Regions from separate parts of the Homo sapiens genome. Here all the other regions are linked to region 2. The links come from fine-mapping of genetic effects on gene expression. A gene starts in region 2. Each other region holds a variant in brackets. All regions are shown on one strand. Distances are between the middles of the regions. Region 1 overlaps EDEM1 (ER degradation enhancing alpha-mannosidase like protein 1). Region 2 holds the start of EDEM1 (ER degradation enhancing alpha-mannosidase like protein 1). Region 3 holds the start of ARL8B (ARF like GTPase 8B).

Region 1 (10,124 bases), 31 kb after region 2:
CTCATTTTTCCTCATCTTGAAATAGTTTAGGTGACCAATAAAGTTTCAAAGAGTTTCTAGGTATTCATTCATTCAACATTCACAGAACACTTGCCTTCTCCTGCACTGTTGCATCCCATATTGGGTTAGATGTTCTTTCTAGATGCTCTTTCGTTCCGTGTCACATGCACCATTGAGGGAAAGGACTGTGCCTTGTGTCCATTGCGTCTTCAGAGCCCAACCCTTGTTGTGCAAGAAGTGAAGTGAATGTTGGCAGATGTGTTGGGCTCTGTGCTAGGCCCTGGGGAAATGGTGGTGGATAAAACTTGGTCCCTCCCTGTCAGCATTTACAGTTCAGGGTCTAGGTGTGTGTGAGGTTGGGTGTAGTTCTAGAATTCCAGCAGGAGAACTCTTAGGTAGCACATGGAAATCATCCAGTGAACTTTTATAGACTACCTGTGCTTGGGCCTTAGTTTCAGAATTTCTGAGTCTCTGCGTCTGGGCAGGGTATGTGTAGGGGAGAGGCAGGTCTGGGCATCTGAGTTTAGATGAAGCAGGTGATTCTGCCTTGCAGCCTGGGTTGGGCACCACAGTTGTCAGTCAATTCCTTTTCACCCAGTTGTCACTGAGAAGCATGAGGCCCAAGCAAATTCTACTCCCTGAGTAGCTGGGACACGCCCCCATGATTCAGTTCCCAGTGTGCTACAATTATTGGTTGTATCTTTTTCTCCGTTCCCTCTAGCTGTTTGATGAAGACAATCCAGTACACAAGTCTGGAACCAGATACATGTTCACAACAGAGGGACACATTGTATCTGTGGATGAGCATCTTCGGGAATTGCCATGGAAGGAATTCTTCTCTGAAGAGGGAGGGCAGGACCAAGGGGGAAAGTCTGTGCACAGGCCGAAACCTCATGAGTTAAAAGTCATCAACTCCAGCTCCAACGTGAGTTGCTTTTTCCAGGGGTGATTTGCATATAGAGGAAGAGAAGATACTATGAATTGCTTAGTTGTTCAGACTTCCTGACAGAAAATTGATGGTGTATGCAGATTGGGAGATTTGAAAACACCTCCTAAAGACACCATTTACATAGCTGTTGTCAGGGTATAGGGAAACCGCAGGAGCAGCGGTGGCATCATCACTGCTGGCTGCAGGTGCTGGTGGGGAGAGTGGCTACAGGATCCTGGAAGGGGGGAGCCTTGTGGGAGGAGCGAGCACTCAGCAGGAGCCACGGCTCAGATCTGACTTTCAAGGCCTTGCCTGGAGGGAGCCGGCAGAGTCAACATGTGACCCCTCCCCGCTCCCCCAGTTGCCTGCTGGAGCATCTTCTTGGCTGCCTGGGGCAGAAGCTGGAGGCCGAGGGAGCCTGTTGATATGATCCATCAGTGGACCTGGAGGGGCAAATGGAAGACATTCAGCAAAATCATTTACCAGCAGCAGAAGGGAAAAAAAGCAGTGATGGTCACGATGGTCCCAATGAAGATGCTCTTCGAAGTGCAGCAAACACCCACATTCATTTAAAGTGGGGCTTTACTCCACATGCCTAGATTGTCCTGAGAAGCAGCAGGAAAAATTTGGAAATGGAAGTCCTTGCATCCCTAGTGAAAGTATCAGGTAGTTGTGTTGATTTGAATCAAATAGGATGATTTGGAAGTGAGGATAGGGAAATGTAGGTCAGTCAAAATTTCAAATCTTGTTATCCCCCAGGGCCTTGGTGGTCAGGAGTTCGGCAGCCTCCCCACAGATGGGTTGCCTTGGCATTAGGGGTGCCCTCTCATCGCCGACTGTGCTTCAGTGCTTTTCCGTTAATGCCCCAGTGAAGGTCTTCACCATCAGTCTATGAAGTAAATCGATAGGCCAGAGTGTAGATAACCACCCCCGCCCCCATTTCCATCAGTCATGGAGCGCTGATTGAGTGGACAAAGCATAATCGGGAGGAAGGGGAAGGAGGGTGAGAGGGGGAAGAGTTAATAACAGCCAGCATTTGCAAACACATACCAGGGTTAGCCTTTGCACCATTCTAAACGCTTACGTACATTAATCTGTTTACTTCTAACAACAGCCCTGTGAGGGGTGGTTACTTTTAACATCTCCATTTTACAGCTGAAGAAAGGGAGGCACAGAGAGGTTCAGGTCCCACAGTGGAGCCAGGATTTGGACCCAGGCAGTGTCTTCTCTTTTAGGAAGGAGACATCTCTGACCTGCCATACTCACTAATAGATCTGATCCCATGATTCCAGGCACCAGGGATTCAGGCCCTCAGAAGGGCTCCCGGTTCTGGATAGGAGCATGGCCTAGTGGGGAATCCACTTCCATCCTAGGCGTTTGTCTGTAGTGCTGTTGAAACACAGAGGGTAGGGAGTAATCTCCAGAGAAAATCAAGGCAGGATTCCCTGAGGAGGTCACTTGCTGGAGATCCTTGAAGGATGAAAAGGGGTATCCCAGAAAGGGTGTTCAGGCAGAAGCAGTAGCACCTGCAAAAGCACAGAGATGTGGGCTGGTGGGGGCAGTCGGGACCAATGGAAGGACCGGCCAGTCTTGATCTTGCCAGGGATGAGGAGCAGGGTGTAGTAAGTTCAACTTACTACAAAGCGTGGGGAAAATGTTTCTTTGGAGATGAAGCAGATAATGAATGTATTTAGACAACTGCTTCCAGGGATGTCACAGTTGGTTAGTTCTCAAGATGTGCATCTGCTTTGAGGAAAAAAAGTGGTGGGGGTGGGGGGGTTTTAATTAAAGAAATAGTCTTAAGCATTTAGAGTTTAGTGAGTTGTGAATGAGAAAAACATAGCTCAGAAAAACACAGTATTTTCAAGTAGCAGAAATGTTTTCTGAAATTCTGGGCGGACTAAGGACCCCAGGGATGTGGCTTTCAGTCCTGGCCACGAAGCAGTTGCTGCGATGCCTTTTAGCTTCCCTGGATCTGCCATTTCTTTATAAAGTGAGTGAGGATGTTAAATTATGTCACTGGTCTTCACCTGAGGGTGATTTTGCTCCTCAGGGAACATTGGAACAGCGTCTGGAGACGTTTTTGATTTTCACAGCTGAGGCGTAGGAGTTGCCACTGGCACCTAGTGGGAGAGGCAAGGGGTGCTGCTGACCGTCCTGCAGTGTACAGGCAGCTTCCACAACAGTTACTTCCAAACGTCAGTAGTTCACAGGCTGAGAAACCCTGGATTAAGTCATCCAGTCACATTTCCTGAGAGAGCAACATATGAGTTTTTAATTTTCCCTCGTTTTTGTCTTTCTAGTGCAATCGTGTACCTGATGAGAGGAGGTACTCCCTGCCCTTAAAGAGCATCTACATGCGACAGATTGACCAGATGGTTGGTTTGATTTGATCTGCTCTCTGTGAGGCCTCATCTTGAACCAGACCTTAACGACCAAACCCAGACCATGCCAAAGTCCAGTCTGAAATGAAAGGGGACAGAAGTCTTGCTGTCCATGGTGGTGTAGGAATTTCTGTGCAACACCTCACCACGTCTGGTTAATCCTTGCACACTTCAGTGTTTCTCTCCTGTTCAATAAAATGCCCTGTTAAGGATATAATTTGAAGTGAGAAGATACATGGAAATTGCCCTCTTATGACATGTTGATGTTATAAGCACAATAGATGGGGCATCTTTGGATTGATGTTCACAGCTTTATACTTCAGAACCTAAGTCTCTTCACTTTGCTGGCACCTGCTATACTGGAGTATTGCTATGTCTTTAAAAAATTTTTTTTATTATATTTTATTTTTTTGAGACAGGGTCTTGATATTTTTTTGGGACAGGGTTACCTGGGCTCAAGTGATCCTTCTGCCTCAGCCTCCCGAGTAGCTGGGATTACAGGTGAGCACCACTGTACCTGGCTAGCTACTTCTTTGTTAGAGGATTGAGAATGAAATTTCTGCAAAAGGGCCCATGGTTCATTTGGTATCCCTATTTAATTGCATTGAAAATGTCATCCTTTCTGTTGTTAGATAATTGGGGTCTTCCCCTGATATCCAACCGTGATTTTGGATCACATGGGAGAAAAAGTCATCCAGTTTTTCATGTTTGCCTCAAGTAATCTTTACAGTGTTACAAATTATTTGCTTAAGAAGAATGGTCTTAACCAGAATTCTTAACAGATAGTCTCTTAGGTTATTATGTTATGGTCTAAGAGGTTAACTGACATCTTTTGGGTGGTATTTTGCATTTTGAATATGAACTTACCTGAGGAACTCCCATAGTTCCAGAATCAGGTGCCTTTTAGGGAGAGAACAATACCTAAGATTGTCTGAGCTTCCATCTTTCTCATATTTCCTAAGCAAGGATTCTCACTTCTGACCATATTTGGGTTAGAGTTCTGTTTTGTTTCTGTTTTCTGTGTCTAGTGCCAATTAGCTAAATCAGGGAGAAAGAAATGATCACATGACTTTTAGCATCCTTGAGCCATTTCTCTGTGTAATACAGGCTTTAGATTAGTGCCTTATATTGGTTTTGGTTTGGGGCACTGGATGTCGCAGCTACTGCTATGGTTTCAGGAGGCCTGTTTAGCCACATGGTGAGACCGTGGTGAAAGGGGGATGGAAATTGCTTGGCCAGTCTTTGCCTTTCATCCTGTAAAAGTAAGCATGTAGAAGGAGGAAGTTGTGCTAAAATGCCTTTGTTTTTTTGTTATTATTTTCTTAGCCAGAACATCTCTCTTTGAACTCACACTGATACACACCTGCTACTCTTACACAGTGCAGCAGGG[T/C]TGACTCTTAGTCTGGCTTCCATGAAGCGTCATGGGTGGAAACGCATTCTAGTAAAAAAGGTAGGAAATCCCTAAAACTTCCAGCCTCACATAGCACGGTTCTCACCTGTCACTGTTTTCCCACCTCTAAGGATTTCATGTACATCTTTTCAAAGCTAGAAATAAGCACTGTCTAAGTTTATGTTGCATTTTTAGTCAAAAGGGAGAAATCTTATTCCTTCTTGAAAATTTTAAGTGTTATGGTTTTATATAGTTCAGTTCTTTGAGATTTTTGAAAAGAGTATTTTCAGTAATAAACGTGCCATCTCTATCTCTTAAACATTTATTACAACAATTGTTTTAAAATAGAAAAAATAAAATGCTTCTATTTTACCTTTTTTCATTTCAGAAGCATTATTCTGTTTATTAACAGTGTCCCATCTACTGAATAGAAAACTTTGAGAATAATATATATATATATTTTAAATGTTTTCACTGACTCATTGAAAATGTTAATTACACACACATGCATGCATGCACACACGAGCATACTTGTACCTTTGTCTCTGGGCAAACAGGTGGGACTGTTAGTGACCCATTTGGGAAAATAGAGCATCTCAGAGAAGGAGGTGAGTTCTTCCTGCCTGTGATTTCTCTTGGCGCTCCCCTCCTCTCCCGCTCTGGCTTCTGTGGCGGCAGTGGTGGGTAAGCACTCCAGTGTTCTCTTAATGAGGCACTTTGCCTGTCACTCGAGCAAGCCTGGGTGTTCCTTCCTCCTCATGCTCCTGGAATAGGGAATAGGGATCTCATGCTTGCAAACTACACAATGCTGCAGGTGCTTCCCAGGGGCCACAGGCTGTCAGGAAACGTGTTTTATGTTAAGTCACAAACCCACTTGACTTCTGGGTACTGGAATTAATACCAGTGGGTGAGACTGAGGGTGAGTGAGTTAGTACATATTAATCCTGGTTGTTGAGCTTCCAGACTACCCCGTCCAAAGTTTGATGCTATGTAGTCAGTGGTTTGTGGGGCTGGATGCCAGAAGGTTCTTTGAGCCAGTTTCAAAGGTTACTTGTTTTTTTTTTTTTTTTTTAAAGTCAGAATGTTAACAGCTGTGATATATCCTGCAGGGCTTTTGCAGTTTCTTCTGTTCTGTGTTCTGAAATACTGGGTAGAGAATGGCTGAGGAGGAGATTACCAGAGAAGTTGCTTTGCTCAGTGCTTTGCCCCAGGATTGCCTCAAATCTGAGTGGACTTCATCCTTTGCGGCGGCTCTGAGCCTGGCCCATCTTCCTATTCCCACGTGTAGCTAGTGTCTAGTGTCAGCTTTGCTCAGTGTGGTGGAAACATTTTGCAGAACTGTTGTAGAAAGCTGCCTTATAGTTGGCTTGACAAAGCATAATTCTCTCATAACAAACTTTCAAATCATTACAGTAGCTTAGCTACTTTAGTTGATGTGACCGAGGAATCCCTTCTAGAATCATAGGTGGCAAGGGAGGGTTTGCTAGCTCTCCATTTGCACTGGCCATTGTGAAAAACCAGCTTCTGTATTCAAATCTTTCCTTCATTTTTTTAAATTTTTTTTTTGGCAGCGCTTGTGCTGGAACTTACTCATTGTAACTGAATCCTCAGGGCTTTTCTTGTTTTAGATCATGGACTGTGCACGTGACACTTAAATAATTTTCTATGTATTTAAAGAAAAATGCACCAGGATGGTGTCTGTGCACGTGACTATTAGAGGAGCGTCTGTAGAAGTACCTGGTTTGGTCAGTGCAGTTGTGCAATCTGAGGGCCTTGTTTCCTCCTCCCCTTTCCCCTTCTCCCCACCAAAGGAAAATATCCCTCTTAATGATTTCGTAGTTCAGTTTACTGAATGATTACCACCTGTAATTCCTCTTTGGATTGTGTAGACTCAACATGAGACATTCCTTTCTGCTTTCTGGAGGGCACCAGGGGCCTTTCTCTTTGATAAATTTTTTTTGTCTGTTGACAAAAACAAAAATCTTTTTTCAAATGTAGTGCTGGTGAAAAGGTAGGGCTGAGTGATTACCTTAGCCACAGGGTGGCTGAGCAGGAACTTTAGAAGAAAATCCTGAGCTTTCCTGTCCATTCCCAGCATCCAGCTCCTATTCTAGTGCCTCTTCCCTGCAGGGCAGGGACCCCTTGGGAAATCGAGGAGGTGGGACGGGCTGGGCCCTGTGTCCCAGGTTTCACAGGGCTCAGGGTTATGCTCCCGCTTGAATCTGGACGTGAATCTGGTAAAAATATCAAGTACCTGTGGAACTCCCTGATTCTATACCCTCTTCCTTCTTTCTGCAAGGCAGAGGAATAATATTTTTAAAGGTTATTTTGTTTTAGTTTTAAATAGCAAAACACAAGCTGCATTTTTATTTATTTTGCATAAGAAAGGTAAATCTTTTTACAAAAAAAAGTATAGAGTTGGAAACTCTGGGAAAACTTACGGAAATACACAAATGCTTCTCTGTAATGTGCAATATGCTTTGCAACTGTAGATGATATTTTATGTTTAATCTGTAAATAAGAAATGTATTTAAATTAAAAGGGATCTTTTTGTAAAAGGACCAAATGTTCTTTTATAAATGTAATAAGGAATATCTTGCTCTTTAAAATTTATTAGGATTTTTATGAGTAATTTTTATTAAAAGATTTCTTTTTTTGAGTTGTCATCTTGTTTCTTTTTTACATTCTCATGTACATTACATTACATGCAAGACAAATGGGAGAAAAGTCTCTAAAGGAAGTGCCCATCTAGATGAATAAAACCTTGCTTTTTATAGCTAAGCCCTAAGTAATACCTCCCCCATGGAATTCCACTACATTTTTGTATGTCACACTCTTCCATTAAATGCCCCTCACATGCAGGTCAGAACTGCTTTTCATGACTTTTGTCCCAGCCCTGGCCTTCCCCTCTGCATCAGCCTCCTTTCTCTTGGCCACTGAGTTCATTGTCTATTCTTATTGCCAATTAGCTGAGTGTATCTGGGATCTAAAACCAGTTCTCTGCGTTATCTAAGCAAGGCGCTTCATTTCTCCTCACCTCTGAGAGCAGTGGCACTTCACGGTCTGTGTGGGTGCAGAGGCCCATGGGAAGCGTGTGGGTAGAGGGTTCTGGAGGGCTGGCCTCCCTCCCTGTGTGTTGCCACTGGGGACCATGGTGGGATCCTGAGGAAGGGACCTGCTCCTGCTTTGTGACATCTGTGTCCCAGCTTTGGTCACAGACAATTTTGATACGGGTTTTTTTTTTTTTTTATTTGAGACAGAGTCTCACTCAGTCACCCAGGCTGGAGTGCAGTGGCACGATCTCGGCTCACTGCAACCTCTGCCTCCTGGGTTCAACTGATTCTCCTGTCTCAGCCTCCCTGAGTAGCTGGGACTACAGGCACGTGTCACGACACCAGGCTCATTTTTGTATTTTTAGTAGCGACGGGGTTTCACCATGTTGGCCAGGCTGGTGTCAAACACCTCACCTCAGGTGATCTGCCCATCTTGGCCTCCCAAAGTGCTGGGGTTACAGGCATGAGCCACCACGCCTGATGGGCCTTTTTAAAGGCCACGAAGCATGACAGGGCGAAGGAGAGACTCTCAAGGCTGGAAACACCTTGCCCACATTGAGCTCTACTATTGTGAGGGGTGGTGGGGTTGTGTTTGTCAAGTCTTGTGGGTTTGTGATCTTGACAAAACCAAGCAAGTCCAGTGGGCCAAGGGACCAAATCAAGAGCCACAGGGTTCTTGCCTTCCTGCCTTTCCCACTCCAGGCTGCCTCAGTAGTGGGAGCACCAGGCCCTTTGCCATCTGTGGAGCAAGTGGAGCCCAGCAGTCCTGTATGAACGCTGTAGTCAGTGTCGGGTGGAGTATGGGGACTCTGGGCCACACGGTGCTGGGTACAATTCCAACTCTACCCCTAACTTAGCTGTGTGCCTTGGGCAAGTTACAGACTTGATGGCCTCAGTTTTCCTGTCTAGTAAATGGGTTGATAATAATAGCCCATACTCAGGATAGTTGTGAGGACTGGGTGGATTCATATGTGTAAGGCACTTAACGTGTTTCCTATAATTATGGTCCAGCTGGATTTGACATCCAGGATCAGACCTAGGGCTTAAACAGGGATGCTGGAGGAAGAGTAAGAACATGGCTGGCCATGGGGAGGCTGGGCTGGCCTCCTGGCTTTGTCCTGGATGTGTGGCTTGGGTCAAGGCACTCACCTTCACACGGTGTCCTCACTTTTAAAATCAGAGATGATAGCACATCAACTCCTAGGGTTCCCGTGATGGCAAAATGAATTAGAAGCTACATTTGTCAGCGTGTGAGGCGGCAGCTGCTAAAATGTTTACAGGTTATGTCTCTTTGTCCCTTAAAGTTTTTTTTTCCTTCTTTAATCAAGGAAGTATGCTAATGTCTTCCTAACTCAGAAACCCAGACCAGGAGGTGCAGAGTGGTTGGGTGTGGTGGTACCTGTGCCCCAGCACACCTGGTCTTTGTGCTTAAGCGTCTGGCCCAGTCTGCTAGTCAGTGGCCTAAAGAATGAACAGTCCCTCCCCACTCTGGCTCTGTGTGTGTGTGTGTGTGTGTGTGTGTGTGTGTGTCTGTCTATGTGCTTGTGTGCACTCACGTGCATGTGTGTATGGTTTAAAAGCCTGTTACATTCAAACCTCACCCAAGTCCTGAGCGGTAAATTCTATGATTCCATTTCTCCAGCAGAGAACCCTGGAAAGTAAACAATCTTGCTTCCTGTCACAGCGGAACCCACTGGAAGCAACAGCCTGACGCTCTCTTTTAGATGCCGTCAACCTTAAATGATGAAATTCAGAAAATATGATGAAGTATATTAGATATATGATTAAGAGTTTATTAGATCCCAAAGCCGGGAATAACCGGTTACCCAGGGAACACAGACTCCAGAAAAATGGGGTCAATGCTCCCAAGTTAGAAGTTAAGGTCTTGCTTACATAGGTAGAAGACAAAGATATCTAGTAGGATTAAAACATATTCCGTACGAGGATGGTTTACGAGTTAACAACAGTTTTGTTACAGTTTTGTTTATTTTCTGTACAGCTTGTTTTCATGTCCTTTCCAATTTAAGAGTCCATTTAACATTCCTTCTTGAGACAGTGTGATAGTCATGAGGTCTTTGTGTGAGAAAGGGAAGAGGGAAGTTAATCTATAGTGAAGATCAACAGTGAAGAAGGAAGGAGTCTTCCCTGGTGCCCTTTAGTCACTTCTTACAAAGCAATGTAGGTAAGGAAGAAGGCTAATCTATAGTCAGAAAAATAAAGGTTACAGATGCCTGAACTCAGGTCCCATAATCACATTTCCTTAAGGCTTGAAATATTTAAAAGTTCCAACAGCTTAAATTTGAATTACTTATTTTCACGGTGCCATTGTGAATGGTTTGGTTCTAGCCCCCGTATGAAGAGAAGGGATG
Region 2 (11,064 bases):
TAAGTGGCAAGTGCTAGTAAAACATTTTATGTCCCAGTTTTTACAAATCAAACCAAGACCCTGCTAAGCAAATGAAGTTGCAAGACATGCCTATTCACTGACTTCAGTTCAGAATGGAAATATTTTAAGTACCGAACATGCTGGTTTTCCCACAAAGGCACATTTTTAGCATAAAGCTTTTTGCTAGTTTGGTATCATCTGCCCATAAAATAAGTCAATACTTGAGCTATTGGAAAAATAATTGTGTATATTTTTATTTGTTTAGAAAGGTTCAGTTAGCATTTTCTCCATACGCATACTACAATTCTGTACAGCCAACCCTTAGTGGCCAGTTGGATGCATGATTTCGCGTTTATTTCCCTGGAACGTCACGTTGATGTGTTTTTGTCTTTTCACTGCATTACTGGAGCCATGTAGTCAAGCATCAAGTTTCATCCACTTCTCACCATTCTCCTACCAAGGGGGTGAGTGTGTGAGAGTTGAGGGTGAGGATGGGGGAACACGGAGGATATACATTTAGCTTAATTCTAAATGTGTATCTGCTTTTAAAAACTTCTAAACTTATAAAGTTGGTCTTTGATTCTGTCAAGTAAATTGGGTGTTTGAGGAACTAACTGCTTTGTCTGTTTGCTCCATGTAGGATTGAGTTACACTGATACCCTGTTGATTTGGTAATTCCAGCTGCTCCAAGGGTCTGGTGGGTTCAGAACTGGAATGGAAGCTTAAACATAATGTAGTGGGCATCATGCTGTAACATCCAGTTGGCCAAATGCTTTACTCTAAAAATGTGCCACAGTGGGGAAAGCACGATGTTTGATGTTTAAAATGTTTTTGTTATGTTACAGACTTTTAAGGTTATGCCCTCAACTGTGCATAGCAGTGAAGAGACTTGAAAAGGAAGACAGTAAAGCCTTACAGACTTCCCTTAAGTTTGCTGCTCTATAAGTATGCAGCCTGCTGCAGGTGTTTCCTGTTGGTTAGTAAATAACCTCCACACATTGGCTGTTTAAAATTCAGCTATTAATAAAAATGTGTACTTTTGTCATTGCTCCTCTTGGGTGTTCTTAGGGAAACCAAAGCAGGTCATTGTCATGGTAGACAGACTGCAATAGGACTCTCTTAAAAATCTAAGCCACAGCAGTAGTCATTTATTATTCCATTCTATTAACCAGCCCTCTCTTCAGTAAGATAATTCTATTTTGAAATCCCAAGGCATCTGGCATTTAGGTAATGCAGATTTCCCAATAATCAGGAGGGGGAAAAGATACTTTAGCTTCATTTTACTGGGGCTTACAGTAGGGATGTAGGAAAAGAGTTGTTAGCTTACGATGCTAATATAGCTTAATTCTGTGGAGAGTACTGGGTTGGCATTTGGGAGAATGGGTTCTTTCCTTGGCCATTAACTGACTGTGTGACTGGTGAGTTGCAGAACCCCCTCATGGCTCCTTAAGTTTTCCCATCTATAAAATGAACAGGAGAGGATTTCTAACCATAACTTCTGCCACTGACAGGCTGATTCTAGCAGCCTAGAAATTTGCTTGGTGGTTAAAAAGAGATACAAAAACACCGATTTGGCCTAGTGAATATGTTAATATTACATGTTCCTTCAATAGAAGGTAATTCAAAAATACAGAAATATTTACATGTTACAACTTTAAATTTTAGCACAAAAGCTGGAGATTGCAGACATTTTACAGAATGATACAGTAAATTTATTTTGTTTGAAGGAAATTCTGTAAATATACCGGCTTATATTTTGAAAGGCATTTACAAATTTTAGAACATTTTCCCCAGACTGCAGAAAATGTTTGGTATGCACTCCAGAAAAGTGTATATACCTACTACCAATTTGAGGGTAGGTGGTTTAGAGCTAAGGTTTAATCCTTTATAACTGCTGTGTTGCTGGGTTTTTGGGGGTTTTTTTGTTTGTTTGTTTTGAGATGGAGTCTCACTCTGTTGCCCAGGCTGGAGTGCAGTGGCGCCATCTCAGCTCACTGCAAGCTCCGCCTCTCGGGTTCCCGCCATTCTCCTGCCTCAGCCTCCCGAGTAGCTGGGACTGTAGGCGCCCGCCGCCACGCCTGGCTAATTTTTTAATATTTTTAGTAGGGACGGGGTTTCACCATGGTCTCGATCTCCTGACCTTGTGATCCGCCCACCTCAGCTTCCCAGAGTGCTGGGATTACAGGTATGAGCCACCATGCCCGGCCAGCTAGGTTCTGCTAGAATTTATCCAGAGCTTTGGAGAAACCTGGAATGGTTAGAAAATACTACTCTTAAAAGTAAAGGGGCTGGAGGACCAACAAAACCATTGTATCCCCTTTTGGACTTGGGAAGTAGAACATTAACCACTTGCTAATTATAGCATCTCCCTTAACCAATTCTTATCTACAATTGTGACTTACCCTCAGTGTTGTACAATGTGTATCACACAATGTGCTAGCTTGTTTCTGTGGCTTAAGAGAATTCACCATTTCTATCTACTACCCAATAGGTGAATTAGATAACTCTTCCATTTGTATATTTTATTCTGTAAGAAAAATTCAAATTGCTCTTATTTGTCATACTATTAGCTAATTTATAAGCGCTAGCCCTCATTCAAAGAAGGGTTAAGGATTTATAGAATTCCTATATTCTCTGGAAGCATCAGTAACCTAAAGGCTAGAGCATGGTATGGGCATGTGCATGATGAATATTTTTGATGTATAGTTCATATATTTGTTTCAGTGGTTTGGTGTTAGAACTGCTAGAAGGGAATCTCACTATCTTTTCTTCCTTTTTGAGATAGTCTTGCTCTGTCATCAGGCTGGAGTTCAGTGGCGCAATCTCGACTCACTGCAACGTCCGCCTCCTGGGTTCAAGCAATTCTCCTACCTCAGCCTCCCAAGTAGCTGGGACTACGGGCATGTGCCACTATGCCAAGCTGATTTTTGTAGTTTTAGTGCAGATGGGGTTTCACCATGTTGGCCAGGCTAGTCTTGAACTCTGACCTCAAGTGATCCACCCGCCTCAGCCTCCCAAAGTGCTGGGATTACCGGCGTGAGCCACCGCGCCTGGCGACTTGTGCTAACGTTAAACCAAAATTATGGGGGGTCATTGTTTGTGGACTGAGTTTCTGCACTAGGTCCTAGCAGACCAAAGTAGTTACATATATTAAGTGCCACACAGTTACATGGAAACTTTACAGACCAGTTTTTCCTGAAAACAGAAAATCCCAGTCTGTCTGAATCAGAATAATAAGGAAGTCCCTTCTTCTTTAACCCTTAAAAAAAAAGTAACCCGATGTTAACCAATCAGTTATTTTTCATTGTTTTGTTTCCTTGCTCTCATCTTACAAAACCCACTATTCTGCTGTTTCTCATTGGGAGCTTTCATTCTGTTTTGTAGAATGGAGGCTGCCCCATTCATAAGTTATGAATAAACGCCAGTTAGATCTGTAAGTAAATTTGTTGTAATTTTTTTCTGACACTAGGAATTGCCAAATGACCCTTCACACGGGAAGTACTAGTTTTTGTTTTTACCAGTCCCAGTCCCCTATGCCTTTTTAAAAAAGAGATGAAGTCTCACTGTTACCCAGGTAATTGCATTGGCTATTTACAGCCACGATCATAGGAAACGCAGCTTCAAACTACTGGCTCAGGGGATCTTCCTGCCTCAGCCTCTCGAGTATCCTGTATCTTGCTAACAGAGCATGTTGACAAACTTGGATTTGTGCCCATCAAATAAGTTTGAACTGTAATTATATACTTTTTTTTAGGCCTTCAGCTTTGCAAAACCTCTGCTTTTGAAATACTTTTTTTTTTTTGAGACGCAGTCTCACTCTCTTGCCCAGAATGGAGTGTGGTGGCGCTATCTCAGCTCACTGCAACCTCTGCCTCCTGGATTCAAGTGATTCTCGTGCCTCAGCCTCCTGAGTATCTGGGATTACAGACGCCCACCACCACGCCCGGGTAGTTGTATTTTTAGTAGAGATGGGGTTTCATCATTTTGGCCAGGTTGGTCTTGAACTCCGGACCTTAAGTGATCTGCCTGCCTTGGCCTCCCAAAGTTCTGGGATTACAGGTGTGAGCCACCACGCCCAGCCGGGTGCTAGTTTTAAAAGTTTCAGAGTTGAAAAGTATTAATAGGTCTCACTATGTAGCACGGTTGTAAGTACTTTATATATATATATGATGTAATCACAACTGTGATAAACATTGTCCTCATCACTCACCCATTTTATGGATGAGGAAACAAGTCCTAGAAAAGTAACTTCCCAAGGTCACTCTTAGGGCAGAGCTACGATTTGAACACCTGACTTCTGAATGTGAGTTCTTAGTTGTCATCTCTTTGCATTCCCCAGAGTAAAGCCATTTTTACACTGAAAAAGTGCCTCCTTTCCTTTTTTATCAGTCCCTGATGCGCTTGTGAGATTACCGGAAAACCTGTCACAAATCAAACTGTTTATCTTAAAGAGTTGATTTTCAAGACTGGAGTTTTCTGATTGGGTATGGGTGTTGTCCCAATCTTATCAGTACATTTAGCTTAAGGAGAGTCCTAATCGAAAGGACTAGCACAAAATAACCCATTTCTTTCATTTCAGTTTCATTCCAGAAGGAAACACTTTCTGAACCTAGACCCTAATGCCTAGGCTATGCCTTGCAGGGCACTAATGTCAAAACTATTGCTTTTGGGTGGCTTGGAAAGAGCAGAGGGACCTGTCTGCTCAAGGGCCAGCTATTTGAAGTGCAAATTGCCCTAAAGTGTAGTAACTCCCTTTCTGCCTAGAGCCAACAGGCTCTGAGAATTGAGCCCCCAACCTGATTTCTTCCATTATGGCTTGTGGAATAAGCTTTACAGTTTTCTATGAAGATTAAATAAGCACACATGTCAAAGTGTTTTGAAAACCATCAGTTTTACTATGAAAAGCATCTTTCAGGAGTTGGATGGTTTTCTCTGGTTATTAAAAGATTTATTTTTATAAGAGTTTTTCTCTAACATCAAGACAGAAGCTGTCCTCAATGTGGCCTGCAGTTAACCAGGTCAAATTTAAGTTAAAATTTGCAATAAAGTAGCCCCGGAAGGAAACATGCAACATGCAACTGAATATTCACATTCAGTTTGCAAGTTCCAGGAAGGCAGAAGTTCAGGATCAAGGGCTGGAGCTGGGCTGCCAGCACAGTCCCTAGGCATCCTTCACAGAGGGGAAAAAGCAGAAGCTGTGTAGTCTAAAGACCCTGGCTCAAGCTGTCTTCGTAATCTTTTTGCTGCTTGGGCTGCTCTCGATGTCTCAATGTTGGGAAAGAACAAGGCTCAGCCAACAGTAAGGACCTTCCTATGTGCCAGCTACCATGTGCTGTAATCAAGTGTTTTCTTAGTTCCCCTTACACCTCCTCTGTATTTCAGAAAGTCCTCTACCCTGAAAATGTGATGAGAGTGCCACATGACAACTTACCTTCTTATGCACTCCATTGGTCGGCCATTCAGCCAATATCAGATTTGGGGGTCTAGTCAGGTCTTGCTTCCCAAGCTTTTCAGAAACCCTGATGAAACAGGCATAGGGTCTAAACTTAGGGAGGGCAAAACTTACAGCCAACTCCAAATGCAGCAAGCAAAATAAATAAGCGCCTAAACCATTGAATCTTTATGTGAAAGCCATAGCCCTTTAGAGCTAACATTTGCAATCTTCTTAATTATAGGAAGTAGATACAGAGGGGTAAAGTTATTTAACTGGGAATCTACCCCACACCTCAAAGGTTAGGTCACTAATTGCGGGTGCACAGGAGAGATGGTAGGATGGGAGGGACAGGAGAAGACATGTTTAGATATATCTGGTAAATAATTTGGTGGTGGTGGGAGCCTTCATTCCCACCCCCAACCCGCCCCCCCCTTTTAAAAAAATCCTATTTCCGAGACAAAAGCAATATAACATAACTTTGTATTTCCTGAAACTTCCAGTTTCTAAGAACTGTCCAAGAGTACTTACACGCACATTCCCGAGACCGTTGGAGTTGTTCGATAGGTCTAGGGAGGGATCTGGGGATACGTGTTTTACAAGCACCATGAGCGATTCTTCAAAGTTGGGTGTTTGAATCAAAAGAGCAGAATTCATGATACCGTTTTGTGCACTCCTTGAGCTAAAAGGTAGTATCCCACCCTCTCCATAAACAGACACCTAAGTTATAAAACTTATGCGCTCGATATGCAAAAATAGCTCGTTTTATACAGAAACGATCCTTTCCTTCTTTTCCTTATATATCTTTTAACTGTCATCACTCCTAACCTAGACCTAGAGTGGCTTTTTCCGGTCCTAGCTCTGCCGGACACACGCTCTGCCCAGAGACCCGATCCACCCAAGGCCAGGCGGTCTGGGGTCACGTCTGTGTCCAGCGTCCGGCGGGCGCTGCCGTGCCGCTCTCCCATTGGCTGGAAGTTCCCTCGCGGGCCGGCGCGGCTCCTGCTCGCCACGCCAGCCCATCGGGCTACGGACCGCCCAGGGGGGCGGGGCTTGGGAGTTGGGGCGGGGCCCGGGTGAGGGGCGGGGCCTCGGGGCGTCGCGGACGTCCTGGCGGCCTACTGCGTGGGAGGGAGTCCTGGGCCGCGCCCCGCGAGGCCGGGCCCAGGCCGGGCCAATCCCGGGCCACTGGGCGGGCGACCGTGGGGCCTGGCCGGCCCGCCGGAGAGCCTGGGGGTTGGGGACGATGGGCTAGTTCCTGGTGCGTCACGGGGGAGTTCCTTAAAGGGGAAGCGAGCCGGGCTACGGGGCGAGCGCGGGGTGCGGTGGTCGGCGGGGAGGCCCCCGCGCTTTAAAATAATGCCCGCGGCGCCCGCGCGACCATGCAATGGCGAGCGCTCGTCCTGGGGCTGGTGCTCCTCCGGCTTGGCCTCCATGGAGTATTGTGGCTCGTCTTCGGGCTGGGGCCCAGCATGGGCTTCTACCAGCGCTTTCCGCTCAGCTTCGGCTTCCAGCGTCTGAGGAGCCCCGACGGCCCCGCGTCGCCCACCTCGGGGCCCGTGGGCCGGCCTGGGGGGGTATCCGGGCCGTCGTGGCTGCAGCCGCCGGGGACCGGGGCAGCGCAGAGCCCGCGCAAGGCTCCGCGGCGTCCTGGGCCGGGGATGTGCGGCCCAGCCAACTGGGGCTACGTGCTGGGCGGCCGGGGCCGCGGCCCGGACGAGTACGAGAAGCGCTACAGCGGCGCCTTCCCTCCGCAGCTGCGTGCCCAGATGCGCGACCTGGCACGGGGCATGTTCGTCTTTGGCTACGACAACTACATGGCTCACGCCTTCCCCCAGGACGAGCTCAACCCCATCCACTGCCGCGGCCGTGGGCCCGACCGCGGGGACCCGTGAGTAGCCCCCGCCGCCCGGGGCCGCGCGCCCACGCGCTTCCTTCCGCCCTCCGCGCCGGGGTGCAGCCCTCTGTCCTCCGGGGCCCCCGAGGGCGCCAGGGCCGTTAGGGTCCCGGGCAGCGCTCCCGCGCCCTGTCCCGTGTGAGTCCCTGTGAAGACCCCCGAGCTTGAGGGTGCGGGGTGGGCCGGTGGCCTTCCTCTCCTGATTCTCCCGGAATCTCCAAACTTCAGAACTGCTGTCCAGCTCAGTGTCTTACGCGTGAGGATACTGAGGTCCAGGACCAGAAGGGACAGTGGCAGTGCCAAGGGCTGGCTTGGAGGGCTTTCCACTTCCATCCGACCCCTTCCTCCGGATGAGCATAAACTCTAAATGAAATCTCCATCATGCCCCCCGTGTAAACGCAGCCTCAGAACAAGCCTTTACCTCGCACCCCCACCTCTATCACATTGCCACACCCACGTCTTTTCTATGTAAAAAGCCTATAGTTGACTTCTCCAAAGCCGTCCATTGAGTTTGAGGCAGAACGGGGTTACAGCCTCTCCTTCACAGGGGCTGCTTCTTAGGCTGAGGATAGTTAGGTGGTGGGGAGGGAAGCTATGTGGCCCACTTTTGGGGTCCAGATACTTGAGGTGAAATTCACTGGATGCCAGATTGACTGTCAACGTCATCGCCCTGTACGATCTGTCTATAAATCCCCCGCCTCTGGTGGCGTGGTTGTCCGGGAAGGTCAGGCAGTCTTCCCTGTTCACCAGCCTTGTTTGCAAAGGCTGAGCTCCAAGGGTCACCACTGTTGACATCAAAGTCCAAGAGGGCAGTACACCCAGCTAAGGACCTCTTACCTGTAGGGAAGGAATGTGCATTGCCATAGACCCTGTTAGTCCAAATAGTTGACTCCCCTCCCCTGGATGGGAGTGGAGGAGTTGGTTTGCTCAGTGTCTTGGCACCGTCTGGGGCAAGCATTTTCCTTCACCTGGAGGAAAGCAGTGGAGTCCAGTCCTTAGGTTCTGATAAGGAAGCCTATAGACTAAACGGAGTTGGGTTTTTAAAATGGTGTGGTTATTTACACATTTATGTTTTAAATTGCAGTTTGAGAGCATGATTTCTACCGAAGCAAGGGGACATCCCAAGCTAAATTCAAAGGACTGAGCCTTTTCAAAATTCTAGGAAACCGATGAGTTTTTCTTGCTTAACCATAGCGTTTATACGTATAAGTGTATTTTCTATCTCAATTTTTTTGAGAAAAAATATTAAATTTTGAAAAAAAAGTATTTGGCCTTTCCAGATTTTTTGTTTGTTTTTTGAGACGGAGTCTCGCTTTGTCGCCCAGGCTGGAGTGCAGTGGCGCGATCTCCGCTCACTGCAACCTCCGCCTCTGTGGTTAAAGTGATTCTCCTGCCTCAGCCTCCCGAGTAGCTGGGACTACAGACTCGTGCCACCACGCCCGGCTAATTTTTTGTATTTTTAGTAGAGACGGGGTTTCACCGTATTAGCCAGGATGGTCTCATCTCCTGACCTCGTGATCCACCCGCCTGGGCCTCCCAAAGTGCTGGGATTACAGGCGTGAGCCACCGCTCCCGGCCATGGTCTTTCCAGATTTTAAGAAATGAATGAATTATTTGGCTCACTTAACTAGAGGGGACTTTATACCTATAAATGTATTTTCTTTCTTAGTTTTTTTTTTGGGGGGGGGGATAAACTTCATTTAATTGTGGTCTTTTTTTTGTTGTCAGCCTACATCATGCTTTGATGTTTTTTCTTTTTAAATCAACATCATTAAAGTTTGAAAAATATCATAAAATCCCACCAGCTATTTTAAATTTATTTTTGCCACTAGTTCCTACCCATATGTCTATGCATGTTTTACATAGTTGCAATCATAGTATGTGTACATATTTTGGATCTTAATTTGTGCTTTTCCACTAGTGCTCTTGGTATTACAAGAAGGGAGAGAGCACTTCCAATAAGTGCCTTTATTCCTGCTCACAGACTGTTTCTCAGATTACCTTTTATCAGGTGGACTGAAGTTGAAAACAGTTTAACGGGGAATTGTGATAACACTTTCATTTGAGAATATGACGGTTTGGAGAGTGAGTTGATGACATTTTAATGTTTTTCTTAATGAACCTTAAAAGCGCTTCTGGAGAACCTTAAGAATCCCTTCCCAGCAAAGTGAGGTGGTGGTTGATTTAACTTGCTGGTCTTTGTGGTATCATGTGTGCTGTTGGCCTTTATTTCAGGATGAAGGCTGCCGATGAGTGTTTTGGTTTGGTTATGCATTGGTTTGGTTATGCGTAAGTTAAGGTCAGGTTGCTTTGAGACAGATGTGTTATTGGAAAGAGGGTTTTAGAAGTATTGAGGAGGTGGGGATGGCATTAGGGAAGGGTTGTGCCCTGAGCTGGGTAGGCCCGTTGGTTGGTAAACCTTTGTTGTCTTTGAGGAGGCCAAAGAAGCCTTGCATGGACGCCTCACACTTGCCACTTACAAACAGTGGAAAACTTAATTTTTTGTACTCTCCTTCCTTTAACTCCTCTCAGGCTTTGCTTTTTTTTAAATATTTTTTAAAAAAATTTATTTTTAATTTTTGAGGATACACAGTAGGTGTATATATTTATAGGGTACATGAGATATTTTGGCACAGGCATGCAATTTGTAATAATCACATCATGGAAAATTGGGTATCCAACCCCTCAAGCATTTTTCTTTTGTGTTACAAACAATCCAATTATACTTTTAGTTATTTTAAAATGTACAGTTAAATTATTATTGACTGTAGTCCTCCTGTTATGCTATCGAATACTAGGCCTTGAGGAAAGTTTAAAACCAGAGTATTGTCATGCTGGCTTTGAAACAGGAGGGTACTTCACATCCCCAAACTAAATAATCTGTAATAAAAATTTTTCATATTTTTTGTTTGTTTGTTTAATTGACAGGGTATTGTTCTGTCACCCAGGCTGGAGTGCAGTGGCATAATCATTGCTCACTGCAGCCTTGAACTCCTGGGCTCAAGCAGTCCTCCTGCCTCAGCCTCCCGAATAGCTGGGACTAGAGGTGTGCCCCACCATGCTCGGCTAATTTTTTTTTTTTTTAATTTTTCTGTAGAAGTGGGGTCTTACTTTGTTGCCCAGGATGGTCTCAAACCCCTGGCCTCAAGCAGTCTTCCCGCCTTGGCCTCCCAAAGTGCTGAGATTATAGGTGTGAGCCACCAAGCCCAGCCAAAAATCTTTCAGATTTTAAAAAATCAAATGTATTCTAATGACTCATTTAACAAGAGTGAATTTGCCATTAGAGTATTATATAAAAAGTACACATAGAAAATTTCGGTGCTAAACACTCTTACCGTTTCTCTGTAGTCATATATGCTCCAAACTTATCTTGCCTCAAGTACATGTGACTTGTTCTTGGGGAGGTATCAGGTAAGGAGTTAACATGAAGTGAATAAAACCTGAACACTCTAAAAAGAGCAGATCTGTCTAAGATAACTATGCAAAGTCAGTTCTCACATCCTTAATTTGGGTTGGAGGATCCAAATTTAAAGTTTCTTTGAGTAAATGTGGATATTATATTTTTGTAATCCTGTGAATGGTTAACTGTAGTTCTGGCTTTTGGGCATGTGACCATTCTCAATTTCTTCTCAACTGTATTGCTATTAAAACAACAAAACAAATCTCAAATTAAGCCAAACAAATATTGGCCCCTCAAATGCTTAGGTACTACTAGCTCAAGATGGCCTCCTCTGCA
Region 3 (11,064 bases), 60 kb before region 2:
GGGTCTCACTCTATCACCCAGGCTGAAGTGCAGTGGCATGATCTCAGCTCACTGCAACCTTCGCCTCCTGGGTTCACACAATTCTCCCACCTCGGCTTCCCAAGCAGCTGAGGCTACAGGTGCATGCCACCACGTTCGGCTAATTTTGTATTTTTAGTAGAGATGGGGCTTCACCATGTTGGTCAGGCTGGTCTCAAACTCCTGACCTCAGGTGATCTGCCCACCTTTGCCTCCCAAAGTGCTGGGATTACAGGCATGAGCCACCGCGCCCTGCCTGATTATAATACATTTAAATGTTAAGTCGCCACCCCAAATGAACATAGGTCATATGCAACATACAGATTTGTTCACTATGTGTGTAAGACCACCTTCATACATATTAATAGCTCCTTCCATAAGTTAAATATGTTTACTTGGCCAACTCCTCAATATAAATTCTTGTTGCACCCTTCCCTCTCTCAAAGTGCTTACTTTTGTTTTTTTTGGCCCGAGGCTGCACGTCCTGCCTACAGCTTATAATCCCCTTCTTAAGAAATAATGCTCTCCTTTCTAAATTTATAAACGGTGTCATTTTTAAGTTAACACTATCTTTTGCTACTACCAAAAATGTAGGACAGGAATTTTTATTCCACGCCAACTCTTCCAGAGTCTTGAAGTCTTCCTGCAGATTGTTAATGAACAATTATAGCAAAAAATGAATGAATGAATTAACGAATGTATAAGTGGATGAATGACGAATGAACCAACAATGAATGAATGTAGAGAAAGCCTCAAGGGGGCCCGAGGGTACGCTGTGCTGCGGAGCATGCCCACCAGGTGGCGATGCCAGCGGCGGGCGGGCCTGGCCGGATTGGCCGCGCCGCTCTTGCCGTGGGTGCCGACGGCGGCGCCGGGACGGGCGTGGGGGGTAGGGCGAGTCATATGATCCGCTCGGCTTCCTGGGTCTGGCTGCTGCCGCCCGCCGGTGTCCGCCCGTGTCGCGCCGGGGCACCAAGGAGCCGTTGGAGGGTCCGGGCGGAGGCCCGCTCGTGTGGAAGTCGTCGACGCCGCCGCTCGTCCGTCCTCCCGTCCGTTCTCGCTCCCGGCCGCCATCATGCTGGCGCTCATCTCCCGCCTGCTGGACTGGTTCCGTTCGCTCTTCTGGAAGGAAGAGATGGAGCTGACGCTCGTGGGGCTGCAGTACTCGGGCAAGACCACCTTCGTCAATGTCATCGCGGTGAGCGCCCGCCCACTCACTCGCCCGGGGCTCCGCAGCCAGGAGTCCGGCCCGGCGCTTCTCCAAGGCCTGAGTTGGGGCCCCCCTCGGCGCGATGGGACTGATGGCGGGGGGCGTGCGAAGCTGGGCCTGTCATCTCCCGAGGGCCAGCATTTGGAATTTCCCGCGTGTTGGCGGCGCGGGGAGTAGCACTGAGATCGGCAGCGGAAGGGTTAAGTCAGTGTAGACATTTTCCAAGGGCTGTGTCCTCAACGCCGCGGGGGCTCGGAAAGAGTTAAATTGAACTCGTCACATTTTTAAAGCGCTTGGGGATTGGGGTTTCCCTTGGGTTTGCCCAGTAGGGGCAGCCAAAGAGTTAAGTCCAGTCTGTCACTTTCCCAAAGGGTGGGATTTGGCAAATCCGTCAGCCGTACGAGAAAGCGTAAGCATTAAGAGCCTCTCTTAAGTTGCCACTTTGGACCAATAGACCCATTGTGAAAGCGGGAGACCAGTGTGAGCGCCTTCCTGAATTCTGTGGGCCGCTGGTCCCATCTAATTCAGTTACTTGTTTTCACCCGTCCCCCAGGCGCGGAGACCAAGCTCATTGCTGAGCTCCAGCTAGCCCACAATACATAGTATTTATTAAGCTAAGAGTTAATTGTCTTAAGCGACTAGATAAGATGGATCTGCAGTTAGCATAAAGTTAACTACCCTGCGAAAGAGGAGTTGGTCTTTAAATGGTGTTTTTCACTTGAAGAGAAAAGAAGGTACTGGGCAGGAACATAGCTTAGCAGGCCTAGGGAATGGGTGGAAGGAAAATTGCACTGAGGACTTACATAGAATGTGGTGTTTGTTCAGCAATGATTGAGTAGAAAGGTGATTGTTTCGTTTTGCTTGTTTGGTTGGTTGGGAAATAAATAGGAGTGAAAGATTTCGCCTCGATCTTTATTTAGAGCCCAAGAGTTGTTGTGACTCAGTTTTAGCTGGTAGTGGCTTGTACACGCCAGGGGAGTTTTAGAACTGTTCTGAAGAGAGATGGCAGCAGTTCTTCCACCTTTTCGATGACTGTTGAAATCCTGAAGATTAGCTGTCCGACTGGTTAGGTTACACAAGATGATTCAAACACAGCTTTCATGTTTGAGAAAATAGGTAACTTGTGATTCTTAGTCCTTGCACTAATAAAGCAACAGGAATGAGTAAGTCTTGGAGAAAAAGAGATTAGCAGAAACCCCAAAGTCCTTTGAAGAATGATGTATATAAGGAAGATTTACCTGCTTGTTGTTCGGCTCCTTTTCTAGTAGTATTATTATTAATTTTTTTTCTTGAGACGGAGTCTCGCTTTGTCCCCCAGGCTGGAGTGCAGTGGCGAGATCTCAGCTCACTGCAACCTCCACCTCCCAGGTTCAAGCGATTTTCCTGCCTCCACCTCCTGCGTAGCTGGGATTACAGACGTCCTCCACCACGCCCGGCTAATTACTTTTAGTAGAGATGGGTTTTGCTTTGTTGCTCAGGCTAGTCTCAAAACTCCTGACCTCATGTGATCCGCCCGACTCGGCCTCTTAAAATGCTGGGATTGCAGGTGTGAGCCACCGCGCCTGGCCTCCTATTGTAATATTATGATTTTTTGCGCTTGGAATGACTATCTTTCCGCAGGAATAGAAGAGTGGAATGTGTATCTAATACCACTAATTTTTTTTTTTTTTTTTTTTTTTTTTTTCTGGTAGAGACAAGATCTTCCTATGTTGCCAGGCCAGCCTTGAACTCCTGGGCTCAAGCGAGCCTCCTGCCTCGGCCTCCCAAAGTGCTGGCATTACAGGCATGAGCCACCGTTCCTGGCCTAATACCACTAAAATTAATGAGGAAACATGAACTTCGGGTTACATATTTATATTAGAATTTTTTTCTTTTCTTTTTTGGAGACAGGGTCTTGAGCTTTCACCCAGACTGGAGTGCAGTGGTGCAGTCGTAGCTCACTGCAGCCTCCAACTCCTGGGCTTATGTGATCTTCCCTGTCTCAGCCTCCCAAGTAGCTGGGACTACAGGCATGTGCTACCACCATGGCTCGCTATTTATTTTTAATTTTTATTTTTTATAAAGACGGGCTCTTGCTATGTTGCCAGGGCTGGTCTTGAGCTCCTGGCCTCAAGCAGTCTTCCTGCCTTGGCCTCCCAGCATACTGGGATTATAAGCCTGCTAGAGCTTTTATATAATATGGAAAAGATGAGGCATAAGCTTGAGTGAAGTTGAGCTCAGTTAACTGTAAATTTTCTCATATCCCCTTGAGATGAGAATTGGAGTCATCTTGTAAAACTTGCTCTTTGACAACATGGAATTAATGTTTCATGTGGATAGGTGTATTAATACAGCCAGTTGTATTTGTTGCAGTTGAGTTGTTATGCTTGGGAACTCTAAAAAGTTGAGCAAATCTTTGAGAAACTTCTTGGTGATTTTTATGCTTCTGTTTTCAGTAGACAGTGTAGCTTAATGAGCATGACCTTTGAAGTCAGACAGCCCTGGATTTGAAATCTGGCTCTGCCGCTTAGCAGCCTTACATCCTCTTTGAGTCCTTACTTTCCCATCTATTAAATGGAGGTAATGATATGTTTCTTACAGAGTTGCTCTAGGGATTAAATGACATGAAAGATGTTAAGTGGCTAGCACTCATACTGGCCCACAGAAGGGGATAGGTAGATGGTAACTGTTGTTATTTGTAATTGGGCGTACCTGTTTAATGCAGGAACGATGGCTTGAAAAATACTGAGAAGGGACTCAACTGGTATCATTTTCTACTTTGAATCACTGTATCTATCCAGATGTGGGCTGCAGTAGTGGATTTATGGATTGGGGAAAGTAATCGCATCATGTGTTCCCCCCTGCCCCGCCCCCACCATTAGATTATTATATTTAACAACAACAAAACTTCTGCAAAGCTGTTGAAGTCAAAGTGAACCAGTGGCTCCACCATTATCTTTTTTTTTTTTTTGAGACGGAGTCCCGCTGTGTTGCCCAGGCTGGAGTGCAGTGGCATGATCTTGGCTCACTGCAACCTCTGCCTCCTGGGTTCAAGCTATTCTCGTGCCTCAGCCTCCCGAGTAGCTGGGACTACAGGCGACTGCCACCATGCCCAGCTAATTTTTGTATTTTTAGTAGAGACGGGGTTTCACCATGTTGGGCAGGCTGTTCTCGAACTCCTGGTCTCAAGTAATATGCCTGCCTTGGTCTCCCAAAATGCTGGGATTACAGGCGTGAGCCACTGTGCCCAGCCCACTGTTATCATTAGACTATTCTTTTTAAAATTGTAATGGTGTGGGTAGCTTCAGTTAAGAAAAAAAAAGTCACAAAG[A/G]TAAGGTGATGGATGTGTAATTGGCTTGAATTAGTCATTCCACACTGTAAACATGTATCAGAACATCTCATTGTACTCCATAAATGTATACAATTATGATTTGTCAATTAAAAGTAATATTAATTTAAAAAAGAAAAAAGACATCTGGGCTGTAATTGGCTGTGGCTTTTAAGATGCTGAAAGGGACCCCCTCAGTGAATTTCATACTTTTTTTTTTTTTTAACCTCAAGGCTCTAACCTAACCCCTGATTCTTATAGAATATGTTGAGGATGTAGTGATTAAAATCCAAGTTAGTGATTAAAGATGATTTTAGAGATTTTTAGGTAGAAACAATGTGTCCAAAATAGTAAGTTTAGCCTTTTAAAAAATCAGCTGCACTTTTTGTATTGTATATAAAATAGTTGCTTTATAGAATCAGAAATACAGATGTATTGAGTACTATGTGTCACTCTAGAAAGGTGACCATTTACTTATTCACATTTAAGAAGCGACTTCTCAGGTATGAAAAGCTTCAGCTGAAGCCAATTTTCTTTTTGTAAAAATCAACATTTTGTAAACATTAAAATGTCACTACATGTGCCTTAAACATTAAGGAAGATTTAATAGATGTCATTTAACTTACTCAAAAGGTTCATGAGACTGAATTACTATTATATGTAGGGTTTGGTTTGAGTCTAAAAGATAATGCAGCTTAGTTACAGAATGCTCAGACTTAGAATGCCTTTCCTTAGGATTTTAAAACTGAAATGATACCTAATTTAATCCAGTTTTATGTAGAGACACTTGATATATGTAGTGTTCTCTTTTGTTTTGAACATTATAAAAAAGAAACACCCTAGTCTTGTCTTTTCTGATTAGTGTCAAGGAATGAAGTATTTTTTCCATTGCTAACTGTTCTGGCAGTTATTGCACAATAAGTCATGTGCCTATATGTGTAATGTATATTGAGTAATCTTTATTTTTAACTGGGGCTTTTAGATATGTTATAGTTATTAAAAAATATCTAATAGGATTTGCCAAAATAATATAGGATAAATCTTATGGACATTATGTATTTTTTAAATGGAAGTATAAAAATTTGTCTACACTTTTGCACATTGTTGATACCTGAAAGGTTAATCCAAGGGAAAGTTTATTACTGCTGAGAATTAGGAAAAGAAGATATTTGGGAAGACTGTAGAAATATGAACCTAGAATCATTTTTTAAAGAGTTTGTAGAAACCTTGATTAAGTAGTCTAATTTTCCCCTCATTTTTTAGATGTGGCTAGCAGATCCAGTGAGGTTAAGTGGAATTCCAAGGCAACAAAGCTAATTCGTAGCAGAGATAGAATTAGAATCTGGGGCCAGTGTACTTTCTACTTTTCCCACCTCTTTAGATCCAGCTGAGGTTAGAACCATAGAACTGTGGATTGGGAGATCTTAATCCATTAAACATCTTTTTTGTATTTAATTTAATTTAAAAAATCAGCTGCAGTTTTTGTATCGTATATGAAATGTTTGCTTTATAGAATAAGAAATACAGACGTAATGAGTACTGTGTGTCTCTCTAGAGAGAGCATTTTAAATCCAGGCATCTTAAGCATACTGACTAACATTTGAGGACTATATATTTATCTATGAACATGAATTAGGAGAAGGAATGATAATCTGTGGAAAGTAAGAGTGGAATATTATGTTTGGATATTTAAATAACTGGCTAACAGGCATTACTGAGTTGTTGAACTACTTTTAGTATCTTTAAAAAGCAGAGGGAGATCAAGACCATCCTGGCTAATGCGGTGAAACCCCGTCTCTACTAAAAATACAAATAATTAGCTGGGTGTGGTGGTGGGCACCTGTAGTCCCAGCTACTCGGGAGGCTGAGGTAGGAGAATGGCGTGAACCTTGGAGGCAGAGCTTGCAGTGAGCCAAGATTGCGCCACTGCACTCCAGCCTGGGCAACAGAGCGAGACTCCGTCTCAAAAAAAAAAAAAAAAAAAAAAAAAAAAAGCGGAGGGCCAGGCGCAATGGCTTACGCCTGTAATCCCAGCACTTTGGGAGGCCAAGGCGGCCGGATCATGAGGTCAGGAGTTTGAGACCAGCCTGACCAACATGATGAAACCCCATCTGTACTAAAAATACAAAAATTAGCCTGGCGTTACTCAGGAGGCTGAGGCAGGAGAATTGCTTGAACCTGGGAGGCGGAGGTTGCGTTGAGCCGAAATTGAGCGACTGCACTCCAGCCTGGGCAACAGAGTGAAAATCCGTCTCAAAAAAAAAAAAAAAAAAAAAGCAGAAATAATTTTGTATTTGATTGTATTGCTTATTATTTAATTTCTTTGGAGGTAAGAATGGCAAAAACCATTTTTAAAGAAAATGGGCTGTGGTTCAAGTCTAGATGTTTTACACATCTGAAACTTGACTGGAGAAGCTAGTCTTCCAATAAGGTGGTCTTCAAGTATAGATTCTGAGTTGTGGAAAATGAGGCATCTTACAAAGGAACATCTCTACCTTCCATAAAGTTTTCTACCCTTCATCCCCGCTCCAATTATTTGTTTTTCCTTGCAGACCAAGAATCTTGAAAGCCAAATGTTCTCATTAAGAAGCTGTTAGAGTGCAATAATGCATTCTAAATGCCTGTCTTAGAAGATATTTCACAAGTTAATGGATTTTTTAAGTTTTTCAAAGATATAGTAAGTGGATGGTTACTGAACATGGATACAAAATACATTGAACCTATAAAAAAGTTACTCAAATATTATTAAAAAATTTTTTTTCTGAAATTTTTTTTGTGTTATCAAAACAATACAGGCTCATTAGCGGAGATGTGAAAAGAATAGTATAAGGTAGAAGAAGCCACTTATTTCTACCATCCAAGATTAACTACTGTCAACATTAAAAGCATTTCGTTTTTGTCTTCTTAATGTGTATATCCAGATGTCTTTTAAAAAGTTCTGAGATAATATTACTTATAATGCTTTATATTCTGGTTTAATTGTTACAGTGTATGCATTTTTCTATCTAAAACATTTTTCATGTCTTCATAGTTTATTCCATTGTGGTATGTCTTGTGGATATGCCATAACATATTTGGTAATTCCCTTATTGGACATTTGAGGGATTTTTCCTATGTTTTCCTATTGTACTCAATTTGATCTGCACTTCCTGAGGATGTGTTCCAGAGTTGGTATTTCTGGGTCAAAAACGCATTTTATGTCATATGGCCAAATTGCTTTCCAGAAAGTGTACACTCCCACTGAGAAGGTCTGAACAGTTTTTGTTTTTTGTTTTTTGTTTTTCCAGATAGAGTCTCGCTCTTGTTGCCCAGGCTGGAGTGCAGTGGTGTGATCTTGGCACACTGCAACCTCCACCTCTCGGGTTCAAGCAATTCTCCTGCCTCAGCTTCCCAAGTAGCTGGGATTACAGGTGTTTGCCACCTCGCCCAGCTAATACTGAGCAGATTTCATATATAAAGTTGGACTTTGGTTAAGCACTTTGTCCTCTGGTATTTTTTAGGACAAACATAGTTTTGTTGATGAAGTAGAACGGTATTTTAAAATTATCCTATTAGATACTGCTCTGTTTGTGTTTAATATATTTTAAGAAGTTCCTTTTTATATTTCAGCAACTGCCAAGACTGATAACTATAGAGAACATAATTCTTTCTGAGACAAGTTCTTGCTCTGTTGCCCATGCTGGAGTGTAGTGGCATGATCATGGCTTATTGCAGCCTCCACCTCCTGGGCCCTGGCTCAAGAGATCCCCCCACCATAGCCTCCCAAGTAGTAGGGACCACAGGCGTATGTCACTACGCCTGGCTAATTTTTTTAAACAAGATTTTTGCTGCTGGGTGTGGTGGCTCACGCTTGTAATCTCAGCATTTAGGGAGGCAGAGACAGGAGGATTACTTGAAGCCAGGAGTTGAAGACCAGCCTGGGCAACATAGTGAGGCCACATTCTCCACATTCTCTCTCTCTCTTTTTTGTTTTTCAGACAGAGTCTTGCTCTATCACCCAGGCTGTAGTATAGTGGCATGATCTTGGCTCACTGCAACCTCTGCCTCCTGGGTTCAAGTGATTCTCCTGCCTCAGCCTCCCAAGTAGGTGGGACTACAGGCACGTGCCACCACACACAGCTAGTTTTTGTATTTTTAGTAGAGACAGGGTTTCACCATGTTGGCAAGGCTGACCTCGAACTCCTGACCTCAGGTGATCTGCCTGCCTTGGCCTCCCAAAGTACTGGGATTACAGGCGTGAGCCACTGCACCTGACCAAGGTCATATTCTCTTAAAAAAAAATATATATTTTTTTTTTGTAGAGACTTCATCTCACTGTGTTGCTCAGCCTGGTCCCGGAACTCCTGGGCTCAAGAGATTCTCCTGCCTCAGCCTCCCAAAGTGCTGAGATTACAGGCAGGAGCCACCACGCCTGCCCCTGAGAACATAGTTCTTTTTTGTTGAGCTTCCCAGGCAAGCCATGTAAATATAAATACAGCTCATCCCCTTTACTTATCATGCTGCTATTTTGTTTTAGAAGTATTGGTAGATTGCATATTCCATAACCCTGATATATTTCAGTATAATCCTTACCTAATCTTGGACCTATTATAGTGGGATGCTGCTTGCTTGCTTGTGTGTGTGTGTGTTTTTTTTTTTGGCGGGGGGATGGAATCTTGCTTTGTTGTCCAGGCTGAAGGGCAGTGGCATGATCTCGGTTGACTGTAACCTCTGCCTCCTGGGTTCAGATGATTCTCCTGCCTCAGCCTCTCCCCAGTAGCTGGGATTACAGGCTTGCGCCACTACGCCTGGCTATTTTTTGTATTTTTAGTAGAGATGGGGTTTCGCTACGTTGGCCAGGCGAGTCTTGAACTTCTGACGTCAAGTGATCCGCCCGCCTCGGCCCAGGCATGAGCCACCACGCCCAGCCTATGAACCTATATTCTTACTTCAGTATGCAAAATGTAGCATAATGTTAAGAATGAGGTTGCTTAAAATCTAGGCTACACACATAGTTAGGCCTGCCTTTTCTTCGCTCTTTTCTTTTTTTTCTTTTTCTTTTTTTGTTTTTGAGATGGAGTCTCACTCTGTCATCCATGCTGGGAGTGCAGTGGCACGGGGATTCAAGTGATTCTCCTGCCTCAGCCTCCCGAATAGCTAGGACTACAGGCACCCGCCACCACGCCCAGCTAATTTTTGTATTTTTAGTAGAGACGAGGTTTCACCATGTGGGCCAGGCTGGTGTCAAACTCCTGTGATCTGTCCGCCTTAGCCTCCCAAAGTACTGGGATTACAGGTGTGAGCCACCGTGCCCGGCCACCATTTTCTTGAAAGCTCATTTTGTCCGGAGAATGTTTTAATGCCAATACATGGACTTCATCATTTGTAAATAGTTCTTATCAGAGGAAAATCTAGGAAAAGAAAGGAAACCTACATTTCTCTCCTTCATAATTTAGCTATTTCGTTTCTAGCTTTTGGCAATCTTATTTCAATAAAAAAATTAAAAAATTTTTTTTTTTTTTGAGACAGAGTCTCACTCTGTCACCCAGGCTGGAGTGCAGTGGCGCGATCTCGGCTCACTGCAACCTCCGCCTCCCGAGTTCAAGCGATTCTCCTGCCTCAGCCTCCTGAGTAGCTAGGGTTACAGGCGCACGCCACCATGGCCAGATAATTTTTGTATTTTTAGTAGAGACAGGGTTTCACGATGTTGGCCACACTGGTCTTGAACTCCTGACCTCAAGTGATCCACCCACCTCGGCCTCCCAAAGTGCTGGGATTACAGGTGTGAGCCACTGCACCCAGCCTACCCGTTTCTTAAAAATATTAAATTGACGTTACAGGTTTTCATTAACCCTTATATGAATATTTTGGTTACTGCCATTATTTTCTACTCTTAAGTGACTGAAATGTTTAACTTTGGTTTTTGTCTTTTTTTCAGAGTTCCGGTAATTTCAGAAATGAAATGATTTGACTAGTTTTATCCTTTGAATTTTTCTGTCATTCTTTCCTTTTTTTGAGACAGGGTCTCACCCTGTCACCCAAACTGGAGTAAAGTGGCATAATCATGGCTCACTGCTGCCTCAACCTCTTGGGTTCAAGCAGTCCTCTGCCTCAGCTTCCTGAGTAGCTGGGGCTACAGGCATGTGCCGTCATGCCCAGCTAATTAAAAAAATTTGTTTTTTTGTAGAGGTGGAATCTTGCTGTATTGCTCAGGCTGATCTTGAACTACTGGGCTCAAGCTGTCCTCCTTCCTTGGCCTCCCAGTGTTGGGAGTACAGGCATGAGCCTGTACTGTGCCTAAGTCCTCCCATCCTTTCTGTAGTAGGTATTGCCCTAAGTTAGGATTGATCATATTCCCTATGATCATCATTATTATTTTTTTTTTTGAGGCAGAGTCTCACTCTGTCTCCCAGGCTGGAGTGCAGTGGCGCGATCTCGGCTCACTACAACCTCCGCCTCCCTGGTTCAAGTGATTCTCCTGCCTCAGCCTCAGGCTCTCCCCACCATGCCCTGCTAATTTTTTTGTATTTTTAGTAGAGATAGGGTTTCA

What was found.
Region 1: its variant is fine-mapped to the expression of EDEM1 in whole blood (INTERVAL, PIP above 0.99).
Region 3: its variant is fine-mapped to the expression of EDEM1 in tibial nerve (GTEx, PIP above 0.99). The same link has a PIP of 0.9 or more in esophagus muscle, subcutaneous fat and testis.

The regions. Positions count from the first base shown.
Region 1 is chr3:5,212,598-5,222,721 of GRCh38, forward strand. EDEM1 (ER degradation enhancing alpha-mannosidase like protein 1) reads left to right here. Exons shown (of 12, transcript NM_014674.3): 11 at 722-925; 12 at 3,232-7,361. The coding sequence ends at 3,321. Among named protein-coding and RNA genes, the nearest start is that of EDEM1, 30 kb to the left of the region's middle. RefSeq lists enhancers at 787-1,288, 9,721-10,124. The variant T/C (reference allele first, on the strand shown) is at 4,703.
Region 2 is chr3:5,180,993-5,192,056 of GRCh38, forward strand. It overlaps EDEM1 (ER degradation enhancing alpha-mannosidase like protein 1), which reads left to right and starts at 6,715. Exons shown (of 12, transcript NM_014674.3): 1 at 6,715-7,322. The coding sequence starts at 6,814. RefSeq lists enhancers at 1,101-1,150, 5,173-5,232, 7,654-7,703 and silencers at 6,344-6,753, 6,994-7,163, 7,214-7,503, 8,701-8,820.
Region 3 is chr3:5,121,373-5,132,436 of GRCh38, forward strand. It overlaps ARL8B (ARF like GTPase 8B), which reads left to right and starts at 920. Exons shown (of 7, transcript NM_018184.3): 1 at 920-1,216. The coding sequence starts at 1,094. It overlaps LOC124906212 (a long non-coding RNA gene), which reads left to right and starts at 1,687. Exons shown (of 2, transcript XR_007095800.1): 1 at 1,687-2,344; 2 at 7,088-7,443. RefSeq lists silencers at 726-985, 4,372-4,666. The variant A/G (reference allele first, on the strand shown) is at 4,539.